2 separate regions of the Homo sapiens genome follow, and region 2 is reported to be linked to region 1. The links are microRNA targets in miRTarBase. Many come from high-throughput screens and were not tested one by one. Region 1 holds a microRNA gene; the other region holds the end of a gene's coding sequence.
What was found. The annotated mature microRNA hsa-miR-1276 reads UAAAGAGCCCUGUGGAGACA and lies in region 1 at 2,864-2,883, opposite strand. An mRNA with a match to its seed (bases 2 to 7 or 8) in the 3' UTR can be bound and repressed. Matches are read on the target gene's strand: a 7mer-m8 pairs with bases 2 to 8, a 7mer-A1 pairs with bases 2 to 7 and ends in A, and an 8mer does both.

Region 2: miRTarBase lists PNN as a target of hsa-miR-1276. Seed matches in the 3' UTR shown: 7mer-A1 at 2,223-2,229 and 7mer-A1 at 2,360-2,366.

The regions. Positions count from the first base shown.
Region 1 is chr15:85,767,685-85,773,066 of GRCh38, forward strand. MIR1276 (microRNA 1276) reads right to left here and starts at 2,894; the gene lies at 2,812-2,894. It overlaps KLHL25 (kelch like family member 25), which reads right to left. Exons shown (of 3, transcript NM_022480.4): 2 at 333-2,136. The coding sequence starts at 2,126. The coding sequence ends at 357. RefSeq lists enhancers at 102-876, 877-1,650, 1,651-2,425, 2,426-3,198.
Region 2 is chr14:39,180,070-39,185,451 of GRCh38, forward strand. It overlaps PNN (pinin, desmosome associated protein), which reads left to right. Exons shown (of 9, transcript NM_002687.4): 9 at 434-3,151. The coding sequence ends at 1,794. Among named protein-coding and RNA genes, the nearest start is that of PNN-AS1, 6.9 kb to the left of the region's middle.

The DNA.
Region 1 (5,382 bases):
GCACCCTCAGACTCTGCAGGTTGACCTATGCTCCACACAGCACTGTCAAAAGGTCCCTGGGTGATTCTGAAGTATAACCATGTTTGGGAACCACCATGTTGGTCTAACCATGGTTACTGTCCCCATTTTGCAGACTGGTTCAATAATTTGCTCCAGGTTAACTGCAAATAGAAGGCAGAGCCAGGATTTGACTCCAGAGCACACCAGCCACCTGCTGCCCACCCAGACTTCCCTGGAAGACACGGTGACCTTCACCCAGTGGGAAGAGGTGGGACTGCATTCCCCCATGACCTTTCCGGACCCAGAGTGGCCGTGGGCTGCCAGGGACTCACCTGGCTGGGCTCAGCAGGTGCTCCTCACGCGGGCAGGTGCTTCCAGGTGCTGACAAAGGCCGTGGGGATAAGTGAGTAGGGCACTGTGGTGATGCAGTTCCATGTATCTGAAGTGGGGTCATAGCAGTCCAGAGTCTTACACCTCTGGGTCCCAAAGTAGCCCCCGACCACATAGAGCTTGTTGCCGGAAGCCAGGGCATGGCAGGACATGCGCTTGGCAGTCATGTCCCCAATCCGCGTCCACTGGTTGGTCTCACAGTCAAAGCGGTAGGCCGAGGCGGCTGTGAATTCCGTGTCACCTCCCATGATGAAGATCTGGCTGCCCAGGACGGCAGCGGCTGTGTACCGCCAAGGCTGGGGGCACTCGGCCTTGATCGTCCACCTGTTCTCCGAGGGGTCATAGCACTGGACCTTGGACACCATGTCCCGGTGGATGCTGGTTCCTCCGAAAACAAAGAGCTTCAGCTTGGCACTCACCACTGCGGCATTGCTGACGCCATCCCGCAAGGGGGCCACCATCATCCACTTGTTGGCCCCAGGGTCGTATTTCTCCACTTGTTTCAGGGAGACAGAAGGCGAGGCCGGGAAGACCCCTGCCAGGGATGTGTGTCCCCCCACCACATAGAGGCAGTTCTCCAGCTCAGCTGAGCCATGGCCAAAGCGGGCAATCAGCATGGGCGCCGCCTTGGACCATTCCTCATGTACGGTGTCGTACACCCAGACATCCTTGGAGACCCCGTTCTCGGAGCCCCTGCCCCCCGTCACATAGACCTTGCAGCCGATCGCTGAGGCGCTGAACTCCTTCCGGGGGCTGGGCAGGTCGGCCTTGGGGATGATCTCCTTGGCCTTGTGGTCCACCTGGTAGATCTTGTCACACATGAAGGTCTGGCCCCCCAGGATGAGTAGCGTGTGGCCCGCCTTGCGTGGCCGGGCACAGGGGCTGGTGACCACGCCATCATTCTGCAGGATCCTGGTCTTGCAGCGCAGGGCCTCATCCATGATAAGCTTGGTGCGCTCGTCTGCCATGAGGAGGGCCTCGCTGGAGACGGCCTCCTGCAGGCAGTCGGACGGCAGCAAGGCCAGACGCACGCTGCGGAGGAGCTCGGGCAAGTGGACCTTCCGTGGCTCCAGGTCGTGCTTCACCCACTGGAGGATGGCCTCGAAGACCACCCGCTCGTCCTCGGTCTCCAGCTCATCACTCGAGATGAGGTCCAGCAGTGTGTCCTTGGACAGGCTGTTGAAGTCCTCGCTCTGCCTCACCGTCTCAAAGTGCACCAGGCACATGCGCCAGGAGAACTCATACAGCCGGCGGCACTGGTGGGCGTCCGAGAGCAGCATCATGCCCAGGCAGTTGGAGGGGAAAAGGTTCTTCTCCAGGAACTCGGCGGCAGCATCCCGCACATCGTGGAACTGCAGCATGTCGCCTGCCTCCAGCAGTGACTCAGCGTTCTCCTCGTTGATGGCGATGCGTGAGGAGTAGGCAAAGTCCAGCAGCAGCTCCAGCACCTCCGGGTGCAGGTTGTCCTGGAAGTTGACAGTGTCATCCCGGCTCTCCCGAAGGCCATGGCTGAACATGGCCTCAAAATAGCGGCTAGAGGCGGCCAGCACGGCACGGTGACAGGGGAAGGCACGGTCGCCCGCCCAGAGTGTGACGTCGGTGAACATGCAGTGCTTGCGAAGCGTGTTGAGGTGGGCCAGCACACAGTCCGGGTGGGAGGCCTTGTGGAAGAGGGTGACGTTCATGGACCCCGTGCTGCTCCGCGACTTGCGGGTCTCATGGACACTGACCGACATGGTGCGTCAGCTTGTGGGGGAACAAGCCCACAGGTTAGAGGAGCCCCTCCTGCCCATCTGCCCTCTCAGGGCTCACTCTTCAGCACAAGCCCCCTTGTCCCCTCCCACCCACTCTCTGCTCACCTCTGCTAAACCAAGCCCCTCTCCCGCAACCACGTTGCCAAGGACAACACAGGCAAGAGTGGCTGGGTCTCACCCTGCCCTGCAGAAACTGGTTTTGTTCTCAGGGTATGAGCCAGCTCTGGGACAAACATCTCTGGCCTGCAGATGAGCCACCCCCTAGGCAAGCTCCAGTTGAGGCTGCCTCCCATGGTTAAGAGAACATGCAAACGGTGTTCCTGACTGAGGCTGGTGTCCGGGCAGTGCTAAGTAACTGGTGCCTTTGACCACATTCCACTCTCATGACAGTCCTCTACAGAAGCTTCTCTTGTAAGTCCCATTTTAGAGCTAGGGAAGCCACAGCTCAGAGAGGCCAAGAAACTACCCAAACTGCCACAGCCAGGATTCTCACATGGGCTGTCCGGCTCTGGAGCCTGATCTCTGTTCAAGGTGACTAATCCCTGCAGGGTTTGCTGTGGACGCCCAAGCAGAGCCTCACGTACCCACTTCCCTGCTCCCAGCAGGCTCTGCCCTGGGCCGGGCTCCAAGCGGTACTGGCTAGACATCCCCCTTGCCTTGGAACAAGAGCCGCCATCAAGGCCCAAGTGCTCAGTGGAGACATGTTCTCTGAATCCAGGTGTCTCCACAGGGCTCTTTACCTAGCTGGGGCAAGTGATGGCTTGGAGGTGGGGCCGCCAGTGACTCACCCTCGAGACCAACGCAGAGGCCCAAGATGACAGCAGGACATGCCGAACCCTAACGGAAGTGATCCAGATTTGCCTCAGCAAAGCAGAGAAACACGAAGCCAGAGCTTCCCAGGTCCCCCAGCTGACGCCAGGATCCTGGGCCAACGCAGCGCCTCCCCTGCCTCCCTTGCCTGCCCTTCTCCACCAGGCCTGGGGACCTGGCGCTCAGAGTGATGGAGTGATGGCCAAGAAACAGGTTCACTACTTGCTCAATCTAGGGGAATTCTAAAGCACTGTCATTAATGTCCAGTGAATGGCATGACCCGAGGCCCCAGTTCAGTACTTTGAACTCAAGGCTCAGCCAACAGGCGGCAAAACTCATATACCTAGAGAAAACATGGCCAACACCCTTGAGGCCATCTCGAAGACCACAGCTACCTGCCCCACTGACCTGTGGAAGGAGACTGTATTCACCAAGTCTCCCGATCAGGAATTCACTGACCACCTTGTCAAGACCCTCACCAGAGTCTCCATGCAGAGGACCTACGCTCCAGCTGTGGCTACAACAGGGTTTTTATACAAGAAAAATAAAGTGAATTAAGCCTGAAAAAAAAAAAAAAAAGAAAGAAAAGAAAACATGGCCAAAAAGCAAACTGCATTCCAGTATCTTGACCCCCTAAAAGCCTGTGCTGCTGTCTTCCTGCTGGTAATGGGGCCAAGAAAAACAAAAAACCCTAAACAACAAAGTTTTTCATTTTTAATTTTCAAAAGTATGTAACTCTCCTGCCGCCTCCCACTCCAAGTCAATTTTCTACTTAGGTAATAATCTGGTAAAGGTAGGAAACGATTTCATGCTTCAGTGAAATTGTAAATGAGTGTCCGGCTACATGGCTCTCTCTTGCTCACTCCTCCTCTGGAAAAGAGGCAGAGAAGCCACAAACTGACGAGATTAGAGCTAGCAAGGTCCCTGCTTTTGGGCTTAGGCAGAGAGGGCACAGGGCCAGACTGGCCTTGCTGCTTGGACCCCCAAGCTCCAGGTAGACTGTACACCGAGGACCTGCCTAAGACACTGCTGTCCAAACCTGCAGCCCACAGTCCACAGGGCTCCGAGGCTATATGAGGTTAGCCCTTCTGGGGGTTGGGGTGAGAGCACTGGACGCAGATCCAGGCTGTATCCTGGCTCCACCTCCATCCTGTACCTCACTATTATTTTCTTGTAAAGTGAGATCCCCATCCTACTCAGGCCTCCACAACTCACTTGTTGGCAACTATTTCCTGAGCACATCCTCGAAGCTGGGCCCTCAGATGCAGTGGCACGGAGCCTGAGAGACTGCGCTGACCGGGTCTGAGGGAAGCTTTGCCAACAGCCTGGCCCGTGACTGATCGGAATTGCCTAATCTGAATTCCAGACCCTGCGACATTTCCCCAAATCTTGCTGTGATTGCTAAACTCTCACTCCAGTTTCCTCACTCCAGACCACCCCCTTGGTGATCAGACAATTTCCCAAATGTGGCTCTGTCCCCTCCTGCCCCACCCCACAGTGTCAGGACATTTTAAGAGGCATTTGTTGCCTCTGGTCTGCAGACCGTGCTGGGGGAAACGTGGAGAGCCAAGGACCAGGAAGAATTCTAGTTCGAGCCCTGGGACTCCTAAGCCCATGCCCTCTCCACTGAGGTCACGTTCAAGGGCCCTGATGCTGAGGTTTGGCTTCAGTTCCATTGTCAACACACTTGTGCTTCCAAGGACCTCCCTGCTCTAGGTCCCTAGGCACCTCATCGCACCTGCCCCCTGCCCCACCCTGGCCCTGCCAGAGGGGAGGCTGGTTCTGAGCTTGGGCTGAACGGCAGCTTGAATGCCTGGGCTTGGACACTCCAAGTGTGGGGTGAGCCCCTCTGGGATTCTTCTTACAGACAGCCCCAGCTGGAATCCCAGCTCCTCACCTTAGTAACTACGGCCCTGGAACCAACACACCTAGAACTAACTCCACTCTGGGGCACTGTGTTAACTGGGCTGCCTGCGAGAGTACCCAGGCAGAGACTCCCTTTGGAGGGGGTTATGGGCAGGACAAAGCAAGACTCAAAAGACCGAGAAAGCCAAAAAGCAGGGCAAATTGAAACAGGGCAGCCACAATGGTCCAGAGAAGGAGGCAGAGCAGTGACCTCTCCAAGCCAACAGTGAGCGGCAACCCAGGGTCCCAGAGCTGACAGATACCCTGCCAAAGTCGGCACCAAGAATGCCTGCCTGCTGATGCAGATGCTGGCAACTCATGTACACGCCCAGGCAGGTTCCCACCCCCTAGACAGCCGCCAGCCTGGGGCACCTCTGTGCCAAGGGCGGAAGCACCTGCCTAGTTGTTTCCCCGGTTTGTCCCATCTCCTTCTGGGCAGCGCCTGCCCCTGAGCCAATCTTCCACTGATGGCAGCCACTCACTCACCGACTCAGCCTGATCCCAAGTGAGGCACTGGAGCCCC
Region 2 (5,382 bases), not on the chromosome of region 1:
AAATGCTAATAAGACAAATGTGAAAACCAACTCAGTTTCTAGATGGAAAACACATGGAAGGATAGACACTGCTAAGATGATGATTTATCTCTTTGGGATCAGAAAAATTAATATATATGATTTTATGCCAAAACTGGTTCTGTTTTACAGAAGTTTTATTTTTCATCAGACATAAAGATTGATCTGTTTTCTTCATCAGTTAGAAAATGTGTAGTTCTGTCTGCCACAATTTCTAGTATGTAGATTTCCCATGGATCTTTGCTTTTATAATTTTATGTCAGTTTGTGGTTACTTAATTGCCATAATCTTTTGTCATAACTTTACAAAAACAAATTCAGATGAAGCTTAATGACAATTTGTGACCAGTTATAAAATTATGGCTTTGAATTTTCTTAATCGGTAAATTTTACACATGTAAATTTTTATTCTTTAGCTTTATTTGAAGGTAGACGCATCGAATTTGCAGAACAAATAAATAAAATGGAGGCTAGGCCTAGAAGACAATCAATGAAGGAAAAAGAGCATCAGGTGGTGCGTAATGAAGAACAGAAGGCGGAACAAGAAGAGGGTAAGGTGGCTCAGCGAGAGGAAGAGTTGGAGGAGACAGGTAATCAGCACAATGATGTAGAAATAGAGGAAGCAGGAGAGGAAGAGGAAAAGGAAATAGCGATTGTTCATAGTGATGCAGAGAAAGAACAGGAGGAGGAAGAACAAAAACAGGAAATGGAGGTTAAGATGGAGGAGGAAACTGAGGTAAGGGAAAGTGAGAAGCAGCAGGATAGTCAGCCTGAAGAAGTTATGGATGTGCTAGAGATGGTTGAGAATGTCAAACATGTAATTGCTGACCAGGAGGTAATGGAAACTAATCGAGTTGAAAGTGTAGAACCTTCAGAAAATGAAGCTAGCAAAGAATTGGAACCAGAAATGGAATTTGAAATTGAGCCAGATAAAGAATGTAAAACCCTTTCTCCTGGGAAAGAGAATGTCAGTGCTTTAGACATGGAAAAGGAGTCTGAGGAAAAAGAAGAAAAAGAATCTGAGCCCCAACCTGAGCCTGTGGCTCAACCTCAGCCTCAGTCTCAGCCCCAGCTTCAGCTTCAATCCCAGTCCCAACCAGTACTCCAGTCCCAGCCTCCCTCTCAGCCTGAGGATTTGTCATTAGCTGTTTTACAGCCAACACCCCAAGTTACTCAGGAGCAAGGGCATTTACTACCTGAGAGGAAGGATTTTCCTGTAGAGTCTGTAAAACTCACTGAGGTACCAGTAGAGCCAGTCTTGACAGTACATCCAGAGAGCAAGAGCAAAACCAAAACTAGGAGCAGAAGTAGAGGTCGAGCTAGAAATAAAACAAGCAAGAGTAGAAGTCGAAGCAGTAGCAGTAGCAGTTCTAGTAGCAGTTCAACCAGTAGCAGCAGTGGAAGTAGTTCCAGCAGTGGAAGTAGTAGCAGTCGCAGTAGTTCCAGTAGCAGCTCCAGTACAAGTGGCAGCAGCAGCAGAGATAGTAGCAGTAGCACTAGTAGTAGTAGTGAGAGTAGAAGTCGGAGTAGGGGCCGGGGACATAATAGAGATAGAAAGCACAGAAGGAGCGTGGATCGGAAGAGAAGGGATACTTCAGGACTAGAAAGAAGTCACAAATCTTCAAAAGGTGGTAGTAGTAGAGATACAAAAGGATCAAAGGATAAGAATTCCCGGTCCGACAGAAAGAGGTCTATATCAGAGAGTAGTCGATCAGGCAAAAGATCTTCAAGAAGTGAAAGAGACCGAAAATCAGACAGGAAAGACAAAAGGCGTTAATGGAAGAAGCCAGGCTTTCTTAGCCATTCTTTGCAGCAGAAGATTTCTTGATAAAAAAGGATTACCTTTCCTTGTAAAGAGGATGCTGCCTTAAGAATTGCATGTTGTAAAAAATCTTTTTGGAAAATACAGACTGTTTGTTTACCAGACATTCTTGTACTTTTTGCATAATTTTGTAAGAGTTATTTATCAAAATTATGTGAGGTTCCAAAATATGTAAAAATGATAATAATAAAAAAAGATTAACATCCCTTGTCATCTTTTTTAAATATCCTATACTCTTCAGTAAGAATCTGTATATTTTAATAGGCAAATCTTTAAGTCTGTTCCCTTCTAATTCTGTATCATACATTGCTTTTGTAGAAATAAATGTGTGTTTATTTCATTATTTTTGGGATGTCCTCGTTGACACTTGTATAATAAATATCCTCTTTATCATTTTCAGCTTTTAACACTAGATACTGCACGTGATTAGAATGTTTTTGAAGGTTTCCTCGTTTTTATTTGCCTTGGACAGTTTTTAGTTGTCAGAGTCAGAGCTTTGCAGCTTTGAGGGGGAACAGTTCTCTTTAAAATCATTTGCTATTTTCTATTCTCCCTTGTTATTTTAATCTAAGCATTTTCCCCCGTTTCTCATATTTTAACCATATGTTCGGTAGATAACTAAACAGTATGATCTGGTTGGCATTTTCTTCCTGATGATGGGAGCGTCATTCTTTTGTCTTCATGGTTACTTGTGTGATATAACATACATCTGTTAAAGAAAATCACTTCTTTCTAGGGGAGGGAGGTAGAAAAGTATCTTTCAAACTTGGTTTTTGAGTTTGTGTCTTGTCTTAACTTTGTGTTGGCTCTAACTTAAACATGCTGATATGTGTTTTCAAGAATTTTGTTTAAGGAAGTATTGTATGGAAGTCCACAAAATGAAGGAAGTTCATCTAGGTTTTAATATGTAAGCAAGATAACACACAAGTGTACCAAGTGATTATTAACTTTGTTGTTTTACAAATTTGTATGAACTTGGAGTATCTGTTGGCCATTACTATACATGTGCAAATAAATGTGGCTTAGACTTGTGTGACTGCTTAAGACTAGTACTTGTATTAACTTTCTGATGCTTTATACAAGAGAGCACTTAAATTGCATCCTTCTTTGAGTTTAACACTGTAGCTTTAGCCTTGACTTTGAATATTCATTTTGCCTTCCCTTGACAAGTAAATGGTTACAGTGAAAATGTGAAGAAGTATTTCCAGTTAGTTTTTGTGTGTATATAACTCACTTGTGTAAGTGGATGTGTTAAAAGATCTCTTTTTAAAAATCCTTTTATTGGAGTAATTATTAAAACAGTAAATGCATAGAGCTTTGCACAGCAATCTGTATCCATGAGCCAGTTCCACCACTAGTACCTTCATCTGTGGCTTATCCAGCAAAATGTTTCATTTCCTGTGTGCCCTGGCAGGAAAGAGGTTGGTAAATAGTGAATTAAAGGGATGATCATAAAATTTAACCTGGTTAAAAAGCACCTTATTTGATGACAGTTTGTATGCACTAAAATCCTTTATACAAATTAAGTTTTGTCTACTGATTTGTACCTGGAAAATCTGAACAATATTCATGTTGCTTACAGAAAAGGCTAGTATTGGCTTGAAGCTCTACTATAGGAGGGGTAGTAATGGGGGTATAATGAATGCTTGAGGGGAAAGTAATTTTCAGTAATTTCAGTTAAGCGCTACTGATCATAGTATGTGAAAGGAATTTTTCTTATATGGAATGCTTGATGAATTTGCATGTCATCCTTGTGCAGGGGCCATTTTAATCTTTTTTTTTTTTTTTTTTTTTCTCGGAGACAGGGTCTTAGTCTGTCACCCAGGCTGGAGTGCAGTGGCACAAACAATCTGACTGCAGCCTCGACCTCCTGGGTTCAAGGGATCCTCCCACCTCAGCCTACCAAGTACCTGGGACTACAGGTGTGCACCACCATTCCCAGTTAATTTTTTATTTTTTGTAGAGACAGGATCTCACTATGTTGCCCAGGCTGGTCTCGAACTCCTGGGCTCAAGCGTTACTCCTGCCTTGGCCTCTGAAAGTGCTGGGATTACAGGCGTGAGCCACCACTCTTGGTCTGTGTTCCAATTTTAGTATGTGCTGCTGAAGTGAGCACAGGAATTTTAATAACAGATTGTACTAACATTTTTAAGTGGTATTCATTTTTAGGTTGGAAGGTTTAATTTTTTAAATATAGTATTTTAGATTTTTTTGTTTCCGATCAGTGCTTTATCCTTGAACTAAAATTTTATGGAACTTAATGTTCAGAGAACCATGGAATTGCACTTGAAGAGACACAAGGAAGAAGAATGTAAAAGTAATGACAGTTTCCCAGGGGGAAAAGACATGCAGTAGTCTTTTTTTTTTTTTTTTTTTTTGAGATGGAGTCTCGTTCTGTCACCCAGGCTGGAGTGCAGTGGTGCGATCTCGGCTCACTGCAACCTCCGCCTCCCAGCTTCATGCAATTCTGCCTCAGCCTTCCAAGTAGCTGGGATTACAGGCGCACACCACCACACCTGGCTAATTTTTTTTTTTTTTTTTTTTTTTGTATTTTTAGTAGAGTTGGGGGTTTCACTGTGTTGGCCAGACTGGTCTCGAACTCCTGACATCGTGATCCGCCTGCCTTGGCCTCCCAAAGTGCTGGGATTACAGGCATGAGCCACGGCGCCCGGCTAACACGCAGTAGTCTTCCTACTGGAGATTACAAATTAGTGTTTATGGTTGAGTGCAGTGGCCTGTAATTCCCAACACTTTGGGAGGCTGAGGTGGAAAGATTGCTTGAGCCCAGGAGCCAGAGACCAACCTCGGCAACATGGCAAAAAACTGTCTACGAAGAGAAAAACTAGCCGATTGTGGTGGCATGAGCCTGAGTCCCAGCTACTCTGGAGGCTGAGACAGGAGGATTGCTTGAGCCCAGGAGGTTGAGGTGAAGTAGCTATGATCACACTACTGCACTCCAGCCTGGGTGACAGAGTGAGACCCTGTCTAAAAAATAACAAAAAAACCCAAATAGTGTTTATGGAAAACTTAGGAGCTGAAAGGGGATAGAGATGGTGAGTTAGGACTGAAATCAGTTTAGAGCTGTATTAGGAAAGACAGGCTGGGTGCTATGGCTCACACCTGTAATCCCAGCAATTTGGGAGGCTGAGGGTAGAGGATGGATGGCTTGAAGCCAGGAGTTCAAGACTGACCTGGGCATCAGCAAGAATCTATCTCTACAAAAAATAGAAAAATTTAGCCATGTGTGTACCTGTAGTTCTAGTTACTTCGGGGGCTGAGGTGGGAGGATTGCTTGAACCCAGGAGTTTGAGGTTATAGTGAGCTTTGATGGCACCACTGCACTCCATACTGGTGACAGACTGTCTAAAAAAAAAATTGGCAGAGATGTCTAAGGGGCTATTAAGGAAACATCTTTTAAGATACCAAGGTTTGGGTAACCACCAAAATAAAGATAGTTTGAACTTCAATGAGCTGTATTTCCAATCTAGGGTCCTTCTACACACTATCTGTAGAATGATAACAATTTACATGATTACTCAGGTA